2 separate regions of the Homo sapiens genome follow, and region 2 is linked to region 1. The links come from fine-mapping of genetic effects on gene expression. A gene starts in region 1. The other region holds a variant in brackets. All regions are shown on one strand. Distances are between the middles of the regions.

Region 1 (5,374 bases):
TTGTATCCATTTCCAAGGACTAAAGAATGGTGTAAGTACACACTGTACTTTGAATGCAAAAAAAGGGGGGAGGATTTTTTTTTTAAATGGCTAATACTCTGTAACAGCTGAAGTGGAATTGATAGATGAGCAAGTAAGTCAAGTACTTAAATTCAAATGTTAAGTAAAACAAGATTTGGCAGACAATTTCGATTTTGTGACTTAATAGAATATATGCTGAACTTAACGGTAAGAAGGCACTTTACTTTTTTGAAACACTTGGTAAAATTGCATGTAATGCCTGGTAATGAAGCGATAAGTGATACCTTTACTCTAAAACACACTTTGGAAAAAATAAAATGAATCTTGAATTCCTTCTAAAGGAACTTCAATAAGGTGTGAGTAACTTAACCCTTTTGACACGCATTAACCACAGGGATGACACTGTGTGTAAAATAACCTTGGTGTTAACAACTGCGCAGCAAAGACCAATCTTTATTATGCCGTGGAGTCCAATATGAGAGGCGAAGAAAGGTATGTTTTAAAAAGGTGTTTAGCTCGGCCGGGAACGGTGGCTCACGCCTGTAATCCCAGCACTTTGGGAGGCCGAGGCGGGCCGATCACGAGGTCAGGAGATCCAGAACATCCTGGCCAACATGGTGAAACCCGGTCTCTACTAAAAACACAAAAATTAGCTCGACGTGGTGGCTCGTGCCTGTAATCCCAGCTACTCGGGAGGCTGAGACAGGAGAATCGCTTGAACCAGAGAGTCGGAGGTTGCAGTGAGCCGAGATCGCGCCACGGTACTCCAGCCTGGCGACAGAGCGAGACTCCGTCTCGGAGGAGGGGAGGGAGGTGTTTAGCTCAACTAGACAGCCTTTACAGCAATTCCGCCACCGGTGACAGTGAGAAACTGTCAGCTTGGGGAGGCCGCGCCACGACTGGACCCCGCCCCCGGGAAGCCTCCCCGGAGCCGAGGGCCCCCGGGCCTTCTCCTCGGAGTCGGGAAGTGCCTGCCCCCACGCTAAGTCTCTCCTGGCCACGCTCTGAAAGGCAAAAATGGCAAAAATCCTCCTTCAAGGCACCGCTCCCTCGACGCGCACCGCCACTCCGACTCCCTCAAAACATTGGTCGCAAAGCCCCCCCGCCTGGTCCTCCATGCTCAAGAATAGGGTGGCAAGGCAGGAAAAGACTCACACATCCCAGCCCCCGGCCCCTCAGGGCAGCCTCTGTGTTTCTAACTAAAAGCCTCCTACCAGGGGCAAGACCAAGTTCGGGCGCTTCCCCGCATGGAGAAACGCTGGCCCCACGGCGCCCGGCCCCGACGCGCTGGCCCTTTAAAGGCGCGGGCTTCCTGCGCCCGGGGCCCCTCCCACGCCACCGCCACCGCCACCGCCACCGCCCGCGCCCGCCCCCGCCGAGGGTCACACTTGAACTTTAGCTCGCCCCGCGCGGCCAGGCGCCGGCGCTCCGCAGGCGGTGGCCGCCCCTTCGCACGTGTCGGAGGCACCACCTCGGGCTCGGGACGCCGGGCCCCCGGCACTCGAGGCCACTCCGGAGAAAACCAAAACAAAGCAAAATGCGCACCGCCTCCAGAAACTGCCCGGCAGGCCCTGCACCGTCCCCGGCCGGTCGCGCCCTGCCTGTCCCCTCCACCTGCAGCCCGGTCCCGGGGCAGCGAGGCTCCGGGGCCCCTCGCCGCGCCCTCCCCCGCCGCGCCCGGCGGAAACAGCTCCGCGGCGCGGCCGGAGAGAACCCGCCCTCCCCCCGCGGAGGTCCGGGAGGGAAGGGGCAGCCGAAGCAGTCGGCGCGGGCCGGGGGTTGCCGCTCCCAGCGAACCCCTTTCTCCTTTCACTGGCAAACTTTTCGGCCTCGCTCTGACGTCCACTTCTTGGCGCACTTTCTTTACTTAGTTCCCCAACGAGCCCCTTACCGCGTCCCACGCGAACTCCTGACTGGCGCGCACGCACACCTACTGCCGTCCCCGACCGGACCCGGGCGAGGCCACCGCGACCACCGCTTCTCGCCCGCCCTCCTGGGAACGCGCTGCCCTCCTGCTCCGCACCTTCAGGCCGAGCAAACCTGCACAGCTGCGCCCTCGCCTGACCCACCGCGCCCCCAAGGTCCGGCCGCGCGCCGAGTCCACTCACCTTCCAGCCCGCCGAGCTGTTGCTGTCACCCTTATCCTTGAAGTAGGGCACGCTCTTGACCATCCACTCGTAGATCTGCGACAGCGTGAGCCGCTTCTCCGCCGAGCTCTCGATGGCCTTGGTGATGAGGTCGGCGTAGGACAGGTTGCCCCACGCGTTGCGGCGGGACGAGCTGCTCTTGCGCGGCTGCCCCGCGAGCGGCCCAGCGGCGGCGGGGGGCACCGGCGGGTGCTGCGACAGCGGCCCGGGCGGCGGGGGCTGCGGTGGCGCTGGGTGCAGGCAGCCCGCCTCCGGGCCCTGGAAGTCCCCGCACAGCCCCCCGGTGGCGGCCGCGGCGGCCGCCGCCGCCACCGCCGCCGCCACGGAGCCGGGCGCCTGCGGGAAGTCCTCGCTCTCCTCCAGCAAGCTCAGGTTGCTCATGAAGTCGGCGCTGACAGCGGCAGCCGAGGCCGAGGGCAGGCCCGCCGCGGCGTCGGGGTTGGCAGCCGCGCTGCCCGACGGCGCCGGGCTGGAGGTGGCCGAGTTGGACTGGCTAAACTCCGGCCTGGGCAGCGGCCAGGTGCACGAGCGCGGCCGGGGCAGCGGCTCGAAGTCCGGGTCGATCTCCACCACCTGAGGCGCCTCGGCCATGGTGACCCCCGCCCCTCCCCCAGCCGCAGGAGAGCCAAGAGGGGGAGAACGCAGCACTGGGGGCGGACGGGGAGGGGGCGCGAAGGGACGGTCCGAGATTTGGGGGAACGAAGCCGGTGCGGCGAGCGGACGGAAACTGGGAGGAAGGCGCGGCGGAGTGGAAGCGCGAGCCCAGAACTTAACTTCGCGGGGCCATCCACATCGAGGCTCCTCGGGGTCCGCCGCACGGACTGGACGGCCGGCCAGAGCCGCCGGGCCGGGGCAGAGCCTGCGCCGCGCTCCAGCTGACAGGGCCGCGGACGGAAGGACGGACGGACGCCGCGGGCCGCTTGCTCTCCCCAGCGGCGCGCCCGCTGCGCTGCTGCCTGTTGAATGTGGCGGCTGCGGCAGCGGCTGCTGCGACTACCAGGCCGCCCGACTTACGGGATCTGCCGCCGCCCCCCGCCCGCGGCGGCGCGCGCGCCGGCCCGCCCCTGACCGACAGCCCGCGCGGCCAATGGGCATGCGGCACCGCCGCCCGGGCAGCCAGTGGGCGCCGGGCTGGGTGGGGCCCGGTTTTCCACGGGGAGGCGGCGGTGGGCTGGTGGGGGGTAGTGGGGTGTTTTTCTCTTTCACACACTCACCTCCTTTTTTTTTTTTTGGATCTCTATTATTTTCTGGTAATTCTCGAGTGTTTCTGTGATTCTCTCGCCTTCTCAGTGTTTTGATTGCTAGGAAGCAAACCAGCGTGGAGGCGCCGGCGACACTTTGTTTACTACGGAGCAGCAGAGCCGAGTACTCGGGAAGCCCGGGTGGGAGGAGGCGCTCGCTGCTCCCTGACCTCCGCTGCGGGCCGAGCCCGGCGGGCTGGCAGGGCAGGGGGCCGAGGGCCGGGGGCGCGGGGTGGGCGGGCGGAGGCGGCCGCGAGGAATTCTACTCAATCGCTCCCTCCTGGCTCCACCCACGATGTCTTTGCTGAACGACGTGGGGAATCGGTGGGTTTTGTTTTGGTTTAATGTTTTCTTTCGCTGCGATCTGTCAAGTCCTCCGGCCCCCTCGCGAGCGGCACACGCCCCCCACCCCCGGCGCCGCGGCTCCTGCAGTCGAGTCCGCGCCGAGGGACCCTTCTCCGTGCCCACCGGTCCGCACCCCCGGGCTCAGCCTGTGCCATTCGGTCTAGCCAGAGGCGCGTCACCCAGCCGGCAGCCCCCAGCCGGATTCACTGTATTCTTGACCTTTTTTAAAATGCTAGAAATGAGGAACAGGGGCTCCGGCGCGGGGAGGAGATTATCTGGCCTCCCTGAACACACGAATCCAAAGGCACCCGCGACCGCATGCCCTCCGTGGGAACCTCTTCCCCTGGGCGGGAATCTCCCGCTCCGTCCACTAAGTCCAGGGCCGGCAGCGAAGGGCTCAGGAGCGCAGTTAGAGAGAACCAGGTCATTTTATTACTTATCCCTAATTAAATTTAGCTGTTTGTTACTTCTTTTTTATTTGCAACGGAAGTGATCGGGTGTTAAGTAAAAACGCAAGGGGGGCGGGAGATAGGACCAAAGCCTTGGGGCGCAGCCTGCCCCACCCCCAAATTCCTTGAGGCTACTTGCTGTGTGTGTCAGTCAACCCCCCACCCACACCCCACCTTTCCTCATCTGGGCTGCAGGTCCAGGACATCCTGTCAAGGATCAGTGGGGCCAAAGGTGGGAAGATAATGGCCCTTGTGTCTCAAGCAGAAGAAACAGTTTTCCAGTTTTGTTTTGTTATGCTTTTGCTTTTTTAGGAAGAATATGGAAGGCATTTCCTTTTAGAAAGATGGGACCACTTAGGATGGAAGATGGACAGTAGGGTTTTAAATATCTTGTCCAAAAGGACAGCTTCCAACTCTTGTTTTTTAATCCCTTTCTTTCTTACAAGTAATTCTGCAATGGAAAAAGTGGCATCTAGAGAAAATTAGTCAGTTGGACAAGAGGTTGTTGAAAAAATAAAAGAGAAAAGAGGGGAAAAAAGGAAAAATTAGGCCTCTTACAAAAGTTAAAAAGATTGAGAGAGATTATCTTTCTTCTTTTATATTCTCACTATCGTCTCTCTAGTCCGGGCTCCTGTTTCTTCATAATCTATTTATCACAACAGCTTCTTGCTGATACTAGGCATGGGTGGGGTGGGGAGCGTGAGCCGGATGGATTGGGGACGGGCGGGGACTGGTTCCCACCCTGGTCTTGTGGTCTCTTCACGTTTACTATCAAATTTGGACAGTCTGGGCCTCCTCTGACAGCCGCTAGGGGACCTCAGTAACTCAGATGATGAGCTCAAAGGCAGGCCCCCAAAGTACAGCTGTTGCTTCCCCCCACCTTTCCAATTACACTCTGCAGAAGCAGCCCCCGATCCAGACAGCCGCACCCTAAAAATAGGCGGTGCCCTACTGGATCATTCTTGGCAAAGGAAGCCAGCTTCAAATTTGGCCTTGCCTTCATTTCTATTCCGGTTTTTCAGGGCGTCAGAGAATATTTATTTGGTTAAAGGAGTCTTCCTACAGACTTTCCCCAAATCCTTGAAATCTTTGAGGCTCTCCTGCCCAATTGTTTCTTCAAATGTCATAGTTTACTTTTATTTGGTCTTTCTTTAAAAAAATTGACGAGGCA
Region 2 (5,374 bases), 240 kb before region 1:
TGCAGCAAAGGTGTAGGACAGGCCCACCGAGGGGCAGGCAGTCCCTCCTCGCACGGGGCTCCCCTTCTCAGGAGTGCGATGGCTCATGCTTCTGGGAATGTGGTGGGGAAAAGCTCACTTGGAATCTCTTTGAGAGCCACGGAATGGTTCCTAGGAAGCCGTGGAAGTTCACATCCTGCTTGACAAATTCTTTTAAGTTTAACAAGGGTAATGGAGGGATATGTAGCCATTAACCCAGTAAATGAGGAACAGTGCCTTTTGTCAGTGCCATTTTATACTAAGCCATTTCTTCAGAAGCTGAACTCTTAACCTCAATACTTCATTATTTCTCTTGTTAAGATATTACGACAAAAGATGGAGATCAAATACAACTAGCAGATGCCTTAGAGTGAGCTCTAGCCAAGATGGCTGCCAACTGTAATGGTTCTTTGAAAACTGAAGGGGGGAATTTGCTACATTTGATAGAAATCAGCACAAATAAGCTATAACCTGGTTGTTCTTTTCAAAGTGTTCCTCCCACGCCCCCACGTAGGGCTTAGAGCATATGTCTCCATTCTGACTATGTATGAGAGTCACCTAGAACACTGTGGTGTCAGCAGAGATTCATGATTTAATTGGTGTAGGGTGTGGTCTCACACCTGGCTAGAAAATGCAGCCCTGATAAACGTACCCCTATGTTCACACCTGTGTTGGGACAGCCAAGACCACTCCTCTTCCCCATTCTTAGGGCTATTCCCCAACCTTCAACCCCCAATGCCCCACCACCATGCTCCATCAAAGGGCTTGTGTGCTGGCTTCCCTGGGCACACTCATCTTCTTCTGGCTGCCCTGACGGAAACTTTGTCATAGTGATTCTGAAAGAACACAGCCAAGCTCCCTGGCTGCCATTTATTTGGGCGACTGGAAGCTGAGAAGGAAAAAAAATAGGGCAAGAGGAGAAAGTTTTACTTCTGCCCCACCATCCTGTCTATCCACACAACTCATTTTAACAACGACATTGCCACATTTATTCTGCCATTTGTCTCCTACAAAGGATATGTCATTTTCAGCTACAAATAACAGTGATCTACATTAGCCTATGAGAAGTTTATGATCATGCTGGGAGATATGGAACCCAGGTTAGCCTATGCACGTTTCATAAATAAATAAATAAGATTCCAAAGATTAGGTGACTTAAATCAGGCCTCCCAGACTTTGGGACTTAATACATTGGGAAAAGAAAAAAAATGTAATAGTGAGACAGGCATATTTATTTTGTCCATTGACATTTTTAAATACCACCTACTATCACTATAATTTCAAAATGAAGGAGATTTTAACAACAACAAAAAGAAAAGAAAGACCCTTATCTCAGAATTAAGAAAGTCCTTACAATTGAATAAACGCAGGCTTAGAGAAAATTAAATCCATTGTTTTTCTTTTTCTGCATTTTAATGCACATGGTAAAAACTTTGTCATAGACTAGCATGGTCCAAGGACCTGCATCTGGGAACTATTGAGTTAGAGCACAGAATTTCAGAATTACAAAATACCTTATAAATAACCATGTTCAACCACCCCTATGATGCTTGAGTTCCTTGTACAATATACTTGACTAATGTATGTCCAGCTAGTTGTAAGAACAGCATTTTGATGAGGCCATTTTGACACATGGACATCTTGACATGTGAAGCATAAAATTATAAATGAGGCTTTCTGGTTACAGCAGAAAATATCAATTACGCTAAAATACAAATAAATAGAAGTAACTATTTTTGTATTTTCAGCTCTAACCCCAGCTCCACCCCAGAGATCTGTCACTCATCTTCAGGGTCATCATATCCCCATCCTTGTGCTACTCAAAAGGGACAAGTGAAGGGTAGGTGGGCCCCAGGGATGGAGCCTGGGTCAGGGAAGAGAAGAGGCAGGCTGAAAGAGGGTGTAAGGAGATGTGCCAACAACATCTGTTTCCCACTTAATTTAAAAGAGAGGAGCAAGTTTAATAGTAGGAATGAAACCATTTGCTATGTTCTGCTCTTGCCCAAAGGGTTTGATTCTATCCTAAAAGGCATTTGGTGTCAAAATGACCACCTCAATGCATGGCATCAAAATTTCCATGGCATCAAAACACCCATGTCAGAATTGCAGAATTTGGTGTAATTATCCCCAACAGCAACAATCTGAAGTATCTTTAGACATTTGCAACTATAAGAAAGATCCTTCTGACATGCAATTAAAATGCATTTCTGCATGGCTTCTGCTGGGGTCCCAGACTTCACTTCTAAGGCCTCATAAAAGGAATCTAATTCCTCTTCCCCATGACAGCTCTTGCAGATTAGTCACTCCTT[T/C]CCCCAAATCACTTCTTCAGGACAGTGGCCTCAGTTCCTCCTAGAGTTCCTGATGCGACATGGTTTCATATCCCCTCTCTGCCCTGGATACTGCCCTCTGAAAGTGTTTTGACTTATCTATATTGCTCATCAAGTGTGGCACCCAGAACTGAATTTAGTTCTCCAGGCATGACCTTTCTGGTGGACCCCTCACCCACTCCATTCTAGATGGTGTCCTCTGTTCATGCACCCTAAGAGTGCACTAGGGTTTTGCCAACCACATCACACCACTGATGTTACAACTATGTTGTCAGCACATGGATTCCAACCTGGGTATCCCAGCTTCTAAGTGGGACCCCTTTGCATTGAGTCACACACCCTGGAGGCTTCCAGGGCACCTGCCTAGTAGTAAAGATAGGTGTAAGCACATCTTTGCTGCTAACAGCTCCAGAATGAGCCACAGAAGTTCAACTGAAGATGCTGTCCTTTCCTGTGCCCCAGAGAGTACTGGTGAGACATTCTATCCTCCATGTGTAACCAGAAAGGACTCCAGCTGATCATGGACCACATTTCATTCCTTCCTGCTACCAGTCATAATCCCCATGGCACAGTTATTGCTTGCAGGAATAGAAAAACCAGCAATTCTCAACGAACTATGTGCTCTCCCAGGCCTCCCAACCCCCATACTGTCCTTGCTGTTTGCCTACCTGGGGACAACATACAGGTGTCTAAACCCCTCCCAGAGTCACAGACAGCCCTGAGAACAGTAGGGGGACTTGACATAGTGACATTCAATGCTTGAATAAGCAGCAAAAATTAGAGAAATTTCCAAGAGGAATGGAATCAGTAGGAGATACATCATTCACCACTTTTGATTGACTTTCCCACAGCATGAAAATTTCTCTTCTGCTATGAAAGAAAGTTTCCCTGACTCTTCCCCCACTTCCCTCACTGTATTTCCCTTTAAAATATCTCACAGGGTAGGTGAAACAGTCATTACAACATTAAAGCTCTGAAATGTTCATGGATACACATTAAACAATGGATCCCCGTAGCAAACTTACTCATGGTGAAAAATCCTGATTAAGCTGGCCTTTGACTATAGATGCATGAATATAAGCATGCACACATAAAACACACACACACACACACACACACACACACACACGCATGCATACACACCAACTGTAAAACATCCAGGATAGGTTTTCTCTAGAACGAGGGCTTTGGCTGTGAGCAGTTCCCCATTAGTGGTAACCATTGCAAGATGACAATGATTCACCATATACCTCATTTAGAACAAAATAACTCCGATGAGGGTCCCAGAAGGATGCAGTTCATCCACTAAAAAAGTGCATCTAAACTCCTCAAGCATTCGTCTTCCCCCCCACCCCCATTAATTCTGGTTTCTGCCAGAAGCCAGCCTGCCTAATTCTCTTTATTGCCGTTAATATTAATAAAGATGGTGGGACTAATGAGAAGAAAATGTGTTTCAGCACAGGGGAGACCATCCCCTGCTGCAGAACAGGGCTTCAGCATTCAGATTTCATTAGCATTAATGTGACTTCTGCCAGTGAAAGATTTGCACGTGGAGGCAGGACTCTGCTTAGACACACACATTGTTTTTCTCCCATTACATGGACATTTTTAAGGATATTCAAAATACAACACAAATTAGGCATGTCGCGAGGCTACAGAACACACTGTTGACTGTGAAAAATGTCAAGGTGGCAGTGGATAAGGAATTCGTGGCATGGCAGGTTCCTTCCCTGGGTGGCAGAAGTTTGAGTTTAGACACTCCCCAGGGATTTCCACTTGGTTTCACGGCTTGGAAAGAAGCTTGCCCATAATCCCTTGGCCTGAAAGAAACCAGATGGCCAGAAGGCAGTTCTCTGTTCTTTGCCTCCACAGACAGGAGAGGGAGAGGGATAATGGTCAGAAAGCCCATTCCAGGCCTGTGTTAGGGGTGAGAAAAGCCACAGGTGCCAGGCTCTCTGAGCACATGGCCAGAAATACCTCCCCAGGAAGCTCAACCAGGGCTCTGTAGCGTCACGCAGGCATAGTGAGATGAAGGCATGCTGCTTATGGTAGCGTTCTTAAGGTCCACTGATGATGGTGCTGTTCTTTTATGTTGCTCCCTGCAATAGCATGCCTTTCTCAGAAAGAAAAGTAGTCAAGGCCTGCTTAGGCGGTGCCAGTGAGTGTGCGCATGAGATAGAATCTGCTTTGCTTCCTTCTTGGTGAGTTGCTGTGCTTCTCCACGTGTGTGTGTGTGTGTGTGTGTGTGTGTGTGTGTGTGTAAGAGAGAGAGAGAGCACATCAGTGGAGCTTAGTGATGGCAAGGGCTGGCTGAAGTGGCCAAGCCCCAAACCAATGAACCTGGGTTTACCATTCACATCACTCCCTGAGTATCTGAGACTGGCCGTAATGTTGTTACATACATGCATGTGTGCACACAACTGAATGCACACACATGCAGAAACTGGGTAAGAAAAAGGGTCACTGTCATATTCTCTTGATCTTGGGGAGGACAGAAAACTCTAGGATAGGAATGAACAGAGCATAAGGATCCTTGGCCACCTAGGCCCATTCTCTTTCACTTAAGGCTGACCTGGTACATGCTCCGCAAGCTCACACACCTTTCCACGACAAACAGCATCACTAGCACACCAAAGGCAACACCAATGTCCACTCCTTGGGTCTTTGGGTGCTAATAAGCTATCTCATTGATCAGAAGTCCCATATCACTTACACCTCGTAGTCCTAGATTTGTGAACTGCTAAACATCAGTTTTGCCCCTGTATCTGGAGACCCAAAAAAGCTGGAAGGAAAAAGCAGCATTGAATCCATCCCTTTTCTTGAATAAACAATTATTTCACACACAAAAAGAAGAAGACAAAATCTTCTCCAGCAGCATTCTACCAAGCTGTGCAGTTTTACCATTGACCTAGATAACCTGAGTTTCCTGGAAAATTCCAGATGGACTATACCAAATAATACAAAAACACATTCACATTATCCCAATAGATAGATTTTGTGAAATAAAAGTGTATTCATTTTTCTTTAAC

Evidence for each region. PIP is the estimated chance that this variant, and not a neighbour inherited with it, causes the effect.
Region 2: its variant is fine-mapped to the expression of FOXO1 in monocytes (TOPMed, PIP above 0.99). The same link has a PIP of 0.9 or more in blood mononuclear cells and whole blood.

Annotation. Positions count from the first base shown.
Region 1 is chr13:40,663,454-40,668,827 of GRCh38, forward strand. FOXO1 (forkhead box O1) reads right to left here and starts at 3,188. Exons shown (of 3, transcript NM_002015.4): 1 at 2,130-3,188. The coding sequence starts at 2,759. RefSeq lists silencers at 927-1,006, 1,307-1,816, 2,337-2,386, 2,477-2,616, 2,847-3,376 and an enhancer at 4,027-4,076.
Region 2 is chr13:40,426,177-40,431,550 of GRCh38, forward strand. All of the region lies in intron 6 of LINC00598 (long intergenic non-protein coding RNA 598), which reads right to left. Among named protein-coding and RNA genes, the nearest start is that of LINC00598, 52 kb to the right of the region's middle. The variant T/C (reference allele first, on the strand shown) is at 2,328.